2 linked regions of the Homo sapiens genome follow. The protein of the gene in region 2 interacts with the protein of the main gene of each other region in a pairwise test. Each region holds a gene or a part of one and is shown on either strand. Other genes may lie near its edges.

Region 1 (5,185 bases), on a different chromosome or scaffold from region 2:
TATACAATTGATTAAAATAATGTAAATATGCTACATGTTTTAATAAGTAATTATTAAAGATTAAGAAGGCTGCCCAGGCGCAATGGCTCATGCCTGTAAACCCAGCACTTTGGGAGGCTGAGACGGGTGGATCACAAGGTCAGAAGTTCAAGACCATCGTGTCCAAGATGGTGAAACCCCATCTCTACTAAAAATACAAAAATTAGCTGGGCATGATGGCAGGTGCCTATAATCCCAGCTACTTGGGAGGCTGAGGCAGAGAACTGCTTGAACCCGAGAGGCAGAGGTTGCGGTGAGCCAAGATTGCGCCACCGCACTCCAGCCTAGGCGACAGAGCGAGACTTCATCCAAAAAAAGAAAAAAAGAAGGCCAGGCACAGTGGCTCACACCTGTAATCCCAGCACTTTGGGAGGCCGAGGCAAGCAGATCACCTGAGGTCAGGAGTTTGACCAACATAGAGAAACCCTGTCTCTACTAAAATACAAAATTAGCCGGGTGTGGTGGCACGTGCCTATAATCCCACCTACTCAGGAGGCTGAGGCAGGAGAATCCCTTGAACCCAGGAGGCGGAGGTTGCGTGAGCCGAGATGGGGGCATTGCGCTCCAGCCTGGGCAACAAGAGCAAAACTCTGTCTCAGAAAAAAAAAAAAAAATTAAGAAAAAATTATTACAGGTATATCTATGAATGAGTTCGATGAAATTGTTTCGTTCCCTACCTGTACCCTTGCACATAATTATTTCCTTTGTAGCTGAATACTGCCTATTGATTGCTAGAATGACACAGGATTTCAGCATCAATTCCATTCTGTTTTTTTCCTCTAGATATAAATGCTGAGGGACTTGATTCCCATAAATTGATAGGAATGGATGGAATTTTGTAATGACAATGTCATTAGATTATACTTCAGAATTATATACCAGAAATTACATAGTGATATTACCAAAAAATCATTTTGAATCCTCTGTCTTACGACAATTTGTGATTAGGTTACTCTTTAATTCTGGTGAAAGGAAAGAGTTAGAAACCATGTGGCTCATAAAAGGGTCTATTGCTCAGTTATTAGCGTTCACCTTCGCCATTCCACTTTGCCACCTGAAGCTTTCACATCATGGGCCACCTTATTAGGATCCTGGGAGGGTGAAACTCATGCCTTTATCTTGGGAGAAGGGAGTTTATCCCTGGGAGAAGGGAGTTTGAGAAGGGAAAGTGGGGAAGGAAAATTAAAGAGGTTTTAGGAAAGAGCACATATGGGAGTTGAAGACACGGAAGTCAGTTCTCCTGTATGCACATATTTGTGTCCGTGTGCTCCTTGGAGAGTCTTGGGGTTAACCCAGGGAAATGCATACCAGGCTTTAAAACAACTCTTCCAATCTGCTTAGTTTTTTAATATTTAAAAACCAAATGGGAGGGGAGGAAAAAACTTTTATGATCCTAGATATTCAAGAAATACATTATTTGTGACCTGTAAAGCCTCCCATATAAATCCCTCTGGATGTGGGGTAGTCCTTAGGGACACAGGAATATAAAGGGGTTGTTTTTCATTTAAATAATCACAAATTTTCTTGCATTTTTCAGATGATACAGAACTTTCAGGAAGAAGCATGTTTTATTCTGGACACAATGAAAGGTAATAGTAAGACAAACATCTTTCTCTAAGCAGTTTAACAGCTTTACTACTACTAGGCAAAGTACATACTTCTTTGAGGAGAGATAGGAAAAGTAACCATATTTGGGTAAAGAAAGTGACAATATTAGAGATTGTTCCTTTTTTTAAGTTGGCTTTTTTTTTTTTTTTTTTTTTTGAAACAGAGTCTCGATCTGTTGCCCAGGCTGGAGTGCAGTGGCATGATCTCGGCTCACTACAACCTTCGCTTCCCAAGTTCAAGTGATTCTCCTCCCTCTGCCTCCCAAGTAGCTGGGATTACAGGCACGTGCCACCATGTCTGGCTAATTTTTGTATTTTTAGTAGAGATGGGTTTCACCTTGTTGGCCAGGCTGGTCTCGAACTCCTGACCTCAAGCGATCCACCCACCTTGGCCTCCCAAAGTGCTGGGATTACAGACATGAGCCACTGTGCCTGGCCCAGCTTTTTGCCATTCTCTTCCATCTTCCATTACAGATGAGGAAATTGAGGCATGTTGTTTTTATAATGCATTTTTTTTGAGACAGAATTTCGCTCTTGTTGCCCAAGCTGGAGTCCAGTGGCGTGATCTCAGCTCACTGCAACCTCCACCTCCCTTTTCTCCCCTTCTCACGAGAATCTTACCATACTTTTTTTCTCCTGCTGTGTTTTAGAGGTGACTAAAGATGATTCTCTCTCTCTCTTTTTTTTAACAGCAGAAACCAATGATAGCTATCATATCATACTGAAGTAGGAGTGCGGCGTTTCGTGCCCAGTGGCTGCTCCTTCCTTCACCTCTGAAAACGGCCCTCTTGAAGGGGGATATGAATGGAGATTTGAAGGTCTGCAAGAACCTGACTCGTCTGACTGTGTGTGGAGGAGTCCAGGCCATGGAGGCAGAATCCTGGCCCTCTGTGTTGGCCCAAGCTCTTGTGGTACACACAGATTACTGCCCAATATGCAGTTCTGCAGCTGTTTTAGTTAAATTTCTGGACCTTGTTGTTGTTAAATATCAGTAGAAACTCTACATAATTTAGAGTGTATGTAGGGCATAATGATGATGGGAATTGTGTGATGTTTAACAGGAAGATCTTAAATTTTGTGATATGGAGCCCTGTAATTTTTTTCTTATATAAAAATGGGTATCTATATTCATAAGACTAGGTCTTCAATCTCTTTGTACTGGTCTCAAATGTACTGGTATCTCTGCTTTTTGCCACAGTTTGTCCCTGAAAACTTTATCAGTGAGGAGAAATACAGAATTTTCCTTTTGGTTCCCCTGTAATACCACAACTAATAGTATTTTCAGCTAACATTTATTGACCAGGCAGTGTGATAAATTTTTTGAATGACCATCTTGTTTAACCCCCTAATCACACTATCTGAAGTAGGTGCTATAGTGACCCCCAACCGAAGATGAGGAAATGGAGACACACAGTGGCTAAGTAGCTTGCTAGGTGCCAGGAGCTGGCAGGCAGTGATGCTGAAATCCAAACCAGGCAATCTGGCCCTCCTTATTCACCCTCTCATACCACCAGTGCTACCCATTATAACCTGTGTTCACTTCGCTTATTACTGTGGCCCTTCTGGTGACTACAACATAACACTGAGTATGAACTGAGGAATTAACCACTGAAAGAGACAAAGCACACCTAAATAATGATGAACAAATCAAGACCTACAAGAAATGAACACATAGATGCTTTTTAAGTGTCATTAGTTATCGGAATCAAAGAATTTGAGGTGGTGACAACTGGGGATTATCTGTAACTCCCCAAATTTACTGTTCTTGAATGACATTCTCAAACTATTTATTAATGAGTTAGTCTCATCCCTGCTTTCTGTTTCCTCTCTCTGCATCTTCTCTTGGCATAGGAAGTTATTTTACTCATGCTATGTTTTTTAATAGAAGCTTTACAAAAAAAGATGCATTCCCTTCCTGTTCACACTCTTACCATGTTTTTGTTCTTCCTTAAGAATGATTGTGTGTGTGTGTGTGTGTGTGTGTAAGTGTGTAAGTGTAACATCATGGGTTTTCTTTCTTCACTTGTAAAGTTTTATCTAGAAATACTTTTACAGGTTATGTTGAGGTACACAAAGATAATGTTCTAAGATTGTGTATTGGATTTGGATTTGTGTGTGTGTGTGTGTGTGTGTGTGTTTAAAGCATTTGATAAGGTTTAAATGTTTTTTATACAGAGATTTTTGTTCATTAAACTCAATCTGCATCATGGTCTAATTTCTCTTGGTTTGAAACAAATTGAAAACTTTGAAACCAAAAAATTAAGTCAATGACTTGTTTAAAACTGACCTGAGCAACTTGTTATATTACACCAAAATGCTTCTTAGTGAATGATTACCAGGTGTCTCCATTTTGAGGAGGAGACGTATCTGGTTGTCTTATATTCCTAGTACTGGTTCTCAACCTCAGTTCTTTCCTCAGCAGGCTGCTATTGGTTTGGATTTTTTTTTTTTTTTTTTTTTTTTTTTTTATGTCTAGGTGTTTGGGTAGGAAAGTTGGACTAGATGCCTTTTTCTTTTTTTTTTTTTTTAATATAGAAATGAGTCTGGGCACCGTGGCTTATGCCTGTAATCCCAACAATTTGGGAGGCTGAGGCAAGCAGATCACTTGAGGCCTGGAGATTAAGACCAGCCTGGCCAACATGGTGAAACCCTGTCTCTACTAAAAATACAAAATTAGCTGGGCGTGGTGGCACACACCTGTAATCCCAGCTACTTGGGAGTCTAAGACATGAGAATTGCTTAAACCTGGGAGGTGGGGTTGCAATGAGTTGAGATCAGGCTGCTGCACTCCAGGCTGGGTGACAGAGCAAGACTGTCTCAAAAAAATTTTTTTTAATAAAATAAAATATAGAAATGAGGTCTCACTGTGTTGCCTGCCAGGTTGGTCTTGAACTCCTGGGCTCAAGTGATCCCCCGTCTCATCTTCCAAAGTGCTGGGAGTACAGGTGTGAGCCACCGTGCCTGGCCAAGACTAGGTGACTTTTTTGTTTTGAGACGGAGTCTCACTCTGTTGCCCAGGCTGGAGTTAAATGGCCTGATCTCAGCTCACTTGCAACCTCTGCCTCCCGGGTTCAAGCAATTCTCCTGCCTCAGCCTCCTGAGTAGCTGGGACTACAGGCACGGACCACCATGCCATGCTAATTTTTCTATTTTTAGTAGAGATGGGGTTTTACTATGTTGGCCAGGCTGGTCTTGAACTCCTGACCTCATGATCCACCCACCTCGGCCTCCCAAAGTGCTGGGATTACAGGTGTGAGCCACCGCACCTGGCCCAAGGCTAGGTGACTTTTAAGGTTTCTTCCAAATCTTTGCATTTGTGACTCTTACTGCAAATGATGCATAAAATTAAATATATAGATGAGGCACAGTGGCTCATGCCTGTAAGCCCAGCACTTTAGGAGGCCAAAATGGGAGGATCACTTTAAGCCAGGTCAGGAGTTCAAGACCAGCCTGGGCAACAAAGTGAGACCCGCCCCCCCATCTCTACAAAAAGTTAAAAAAATTAGCCAGGTATGGCAGTGATTACTTGAGCCTAGGGT
Region 2 (5,195 bases):
ATCACTTTTTAGAAGTACAGACTTTTAATTCCTTATTGTGGTCTTAGTCCTTAGAGGTTGCATTAAAGTAGAAAAAAAAATTGAACAGAATGACAGTATATTACAATTCCCATTGAAGTGTTGCATTTGAGCTTCTGGGATTTCTACCTTGGGGAGAAGCTTCATATTTAACCCTCTAGAACCTGCCACCATGACTACTAGAGTGAGAACTTGGGTTCTTGGCACCATCACTGATGCGGCTCTGTGGCTCTTCCCATACGATAGGAATGAAGGTAGAATGAGGCCTAGGAGAAAGAAAGGACTCTCATTCCAGAAGGAGTCTTGGGCAGCTGCCCGTGGGAGCCAAGAGTGGACCTAGTGATGTCAAGCCAGGAGGAGCTACAAACCACAGGGGAAAAATTAAAACTAAGGGATAGCTTGAAGGGATAGACTTTATTTACAGATCTGGAAGATGGAGATGGAAACGGATTCGGAAAGAATGAAATCAGTAAACATGCCAAAAACTAGCCTGTAGCCTCCTGTTTCTAGGAGAAGATGCCTTTGAGAAACAGCATGCTGTCATGGAAAAGGCAGAAACAGGGAGACAGGAGCTTCTGACTCTTGTTCTGACTCTGCCACTGATGAGCTGTGTGGTTTCGGGCCAGTTCCTTCCCCTCTTCATGCCCCATCATCCTCATCTGTAAAAGGACAGGTCAGACTAGACGATTGCCCTAGTCCCTTTCCACCTTCCACTGGGATTCTAAGGCAGTGGTCATTATCCTTGAGAAACCAGTCACTCTCCCTCCATGCCTAGATTCAGAAAATGCCCACTGCGCCTAGTTCAGTGATAACAAAGGGGTTCTCAAATTGTAGCCTATAAGTGACTTAATAATAGATTAATCTGCAGTCAAGAAGCTTGCTTCAGGACAGGGAGATCGTTCTTTGGACTGAGACAATTCCAGGACAATTTCAGCCTGACAATACTAGGTTTATGAGTTTTCAGTTCAATCAACATCCATGTATTGCTGCTGTGGAGCCCAGAGAGCACTTCCTGGAAATTTTTAGCCCTGAGCTGATGAAGAAAGCTTTTTCTAGGATCTGTGCACCACCCCTTCACCTACAGACACACACGAGCATGGAAACATCCATGGTAGTTCTACAGAAGTGATGAAGGTTAGTATGGGTTGATGGAAGTTGCTCACCTAGAATGAGAGAAATACTACCTCCTTTGCATGCTGAAAGCAGTTTGACTGGCTTACATAAGAGTGGGCCCAGGCCCAAGATGGTGAAACCTTCGTACTGGTGACTCAATCTGCAGACTTGGATGGGACTTTCCCTGGAACCTTAGCTGGGCTGCAGCTTTATTTCCTAGAATCTCCTCACCTGTTTGTTTTCAGTTTAGAGTTGCCGACAGATAAATCTGCATGAGATTTAGAAGGTGGAAGTGAAGTAGTTGTCTTAAAAAAATTTTTTTTAACCCTCGGAAGGTCCGTGTAGGGCAGGCTCTGTTATAGCTTGTGCATGACATTCCTGATGTGCTGACTCACCTAACTGGCATGTGGCAGTGACTGGCCCACAGTTTCTCCAGCTCCCCACATCTCCTCCTCCAGCTTTTCCAAATCCTGGGGCAGGTGCATGTGCAGCTCCTTGGGGAAGGCTCCTGCTTATTCTGCAGATTGTCTTGCATCATCAAGATTGGTGCTTGTGAGAGAGAGATAGGTGCAGCTCTAGTTTGTCCCCAGTCTCTGTCACTTTACAGCCGCCTTCCCTCCCAACTGTCAGAACAGCTGACTGCAGGCCCAGTGTCAGACGCAGAAGCAGCAGATTTACACAGACGGCATGACTAGTGCCTCTCATTCCCTAAGGTCTGATTCCTCTGATCAATCCTTAATATTACTCATAGTTGTTCTGCTTCTCCCATCACAGGCTTTTAAATATTGTGTGGGTCAGAGAGAGTCAAAACAGGTACCACTGGAGAAACTACACCCCATTCTGATTCCCAAAGCATAGCGGCAGATGTCTGGAGAAGTAGTTCCTTGGCCAAGGTAGATGGACAATGTCATGGTGCCATAATCAGGCAAAAATAAAGGAATCTGTCCTCACTACAGCACAGCCTGTCCCCAGGCTCCTGATTATTTTTGTTTTTACCACCTCCAAGGAAGACATAGTGTTTGTCACTTAGGATGATGACCGAGCCACACATAGGTAATATAACCCAGTAGCCAGAGGGAGTGGTTTTTAAACATTTGGACAGATCTTACAGTACTGGTCAGAAAGTGAAAAAAGCAGTGTGGTCTTTGGGTTTGAGGTTTTGTGCCCGTGACCGGGTCATGCAGGTTACTTTTGCTCAGTAGTTGATCATTTGTTCTGTTGTTTTTGTTGCAAGAGAGACATCCAGACCTACTCACACCCAAACCTTGATTTCTCCCCCTTCATTCTGAACCCTTCAGTTTATTAGTATTTGCCCATTCGTTTAGTCCACAAATGCATCTGTGCTAGGTGCTGGGGATAGAATTGTGAGTAAAGCTAAACAGTCCCTGCCTCGTGGATGTTTACATGCTATTGGAAGAGACAGACAGGAAACAATTGTGGTAAGTCCAACAAGGGAGAGGTATTAGGTGGTAAAAGAGTGTCTCCTGCCAGCTCTGACCTGCTGAAGGGGTCAGAGAATAGTAGAAACCAACTCCTGGTGAGGGGCTGGTAGAGCAGTGGGCAGGCACTGGCTGGCAGCTCACTGGCACCTGGCGGAACACCAAGAGGTGGGATGGTGGTGTGCCGGGTCATGGTTAACAGCCAGTTCTCAGGGACAAAAAGGCCTGATCCTAGCATTTTCCAAAAAGACCAGAAAAGTCCGAAAGCCCCAGCCCTGCCTGCTGCAGCTGCCTCCACCTTCAGGCCGCAGCTCAGCAGCCTGAACCTTCGGGTGTTTCAGAGATATCTGTTCCCATAATGAAATCCTCACCCATTCAGCCTGAGAAGCCATAGCTTCTTGCAGCAGAAGAGACGAGAGAAGGAGTCTGTGGAAAACTGCCTCTGAAATTCCATAAGAAATTTCTCAAGAAACCTGATTCTCCTTTTAGAAACATTAATGGTAACTTAGCATTTTAGCTTCTACTCTGGCTCTCTCTCCGCCCTTGGTCCTACCACCACCCCCTCCTGAAGTCTGACCAGGTCTCCTCTAGTTGGTAATGGCAGCAGTCAGCATGCCTCTCACCTGTCCATCAGTGATGAGGGGTGATTACTCCCCTTGTCCCTGCAGGCTCCTCAGCACTACCCTGCAACCAGCCATACCCAGGGACACACAGGAGGGAAGGGAGTTAACTGGCTCCATCCAGCTAAGTGAGGGCGGGTGGGGGTCTGGGCAGCAGGCTGTGAGAAGTTCACAGTTTGTCCATGAGCTTTACGCTTCCTGAGAAGAGAATGCAATTAAGCAGGTAGGTGCATTTGGCTTTTTAACACTTCTGTAGTTAATCGCTCTTTCTCTGCCTTCTTTCTTCTGGCCTTGTGCTCCTAGTATCAGCTGTGTAATCTGATAGCTTCATTTTTTCTTTTAAATGGCTGGCATCTCAAAGACTACTATATGCATGTTGATTAGACTTAGAACATTTTGGGTTTTATGTTAGTCTGAATCCAGAATATCAGAGACAACTATTTTCTCTCTCTGCTTTTTACTTTTTTTGTCTAACTCTTCATCTCATAGGCCTCCCAGTAGCATTGGATGCAGGAAAAAATACATTGACGGTGAAAAACAAGCCGAACCAGTTGTAGTTTTAGATCCTGTTTCTACACATGAACCCCAAACCAAAGACCAGGTTGCTGAAAAAGATCCAACTCAACACAAGGAGGATGAAGGCGAAATTCAACCAGAAAACAAAGAAGACAGCATTGAAAACGTGAGAGAGACAGACAGCTCCAACTGCTGATCCATAAACCAGAAGCCTGACATGTTTGGAAGTCCTTTTCAATAAGCACATGATTAGTGTTGTTATATTGGCAAGGGCTGTAGACATTCTGCTCTGGTCACTGTATTCAGAATACAGGTTCTTTTCTGGTGTCACTTTTGTAAGTAGCAACTATAAACATAAGTAAGCTGTTTAGCAAAACACACATTCCTAGTAGGTTTTGGTTTTTTGATCTTTATAAAGATGAGGTTTTTTTCCTAGTTACTGTATTAAGTATGACTTCTTTTAGAAGGTTACAAAAAAATTCAGATGTTGATACCTTTTTAGGAAATGTGCATACCACTCATCAAATGGAATGCTGAAAGTTTGAGGTGCTTGTATATAATCGGATAAACAAAACTGATCAACCCAATGTGATTTTAAAAGCCCCCAAAGAAGCTTCTGTTTTGGGTCTGATCCTCTTGATGGAGAAACTGCAGCAGCATGGAAATTGTTGGGTACTGTGGCATACAAGTTATTTTCTACAGTAGACTGAGATAAACTGAAAACTCAGGAGCTGGCATCAAACTCGTAGTCCCATAGTCAGTGTTAATTACACACATTGTTAACTATTGGATGAAAAATACATGCTATTGATTGTGTCCAAAGCCTCCCGAGGACCTCCGTGGGGATGCTCTGGTAGCCTGAATACAGAACTGAGGTGAAAGTCCAAACCTTGAATTTTACAGTAGTAAGTTGGTAAACCATGTGCTCTGTGCTATGAGTTAATTATGTTTTCCCAAATACTAATGTGGCACAAGTACCATATTTTATCAGAGTTCTTATGTACAGTATGGTGAAGATAAGTGACAAGCACACATTTTTCTTGCTTCACTGCTGTTCTATATTACACAGGTTTGTTGTTGTTTTTTTTAAAAAAGAAATTAAGCAGTAGTTAGTCTCTAAAAATACAATGTTTCAGGCTACCACAGTGAATAAATAGAAATGTAATCAGGGATTAAAAAAAAAACTTATGCAGCTTTTCAAAGTTGATTGTTTCAAAATTGGTGTTTATTTAAAATAAGTGGTAATGTACTTGAATGCACTTTTTATGACAATGATTCAGTAATGGTAATTTTACTATTAAAGAAAGTGAAAGGTTTAGTTTTGTTAGCATGGCTCAGCATGTAGCTGTCAGGTGTTTTTCACCTAAGGGCAAAAGAAAATGATAGTAATAATTGCAGTAGTTGTATTGTATTGTATTTTTGCACGTGTGGTAAGCATAGGCTTGAAGAGGTGGGTAGGCAGGTACATGTACTTCCTAAATTTGGAGAT

Evidence for each region. Proteins that work in one complex are often made in the same cells at the same time.
Region 1: the proteins of SHTN1 (region 2) and TFCP2 interact in binary tests that used the Homo sapiens proteins (3 or more experiments, as listed by UniProt).

What each region holds. Positions count from the first base shown.
Region 1 is NC_000012.12:51,092,432-51,097,616, reverse strand, and holds the end of TFCP2 (alpha-globin transcription factor CP2), read left to right. Parts: intron 1-1,576; coding exon 1,577-1,628; intron 1,629-2,338; coding exon 2,339-2,376; 3' UTR 2,377-3,961; downstream 3,962-5,185.
Region 2 is NC_000010.11:116,885,051-116,890,245, reverse strand, and holds part of SHTN1 (shootin-1), read left to right. Parts: intron 1-3,679; coding exon 3,680-3,902; 3' UTR 3,903-5,195. UniProt on the Homo sapiens protein: Involved in the generation of internal asymmetric signals required for neuronal polarization and neurite outgrowth.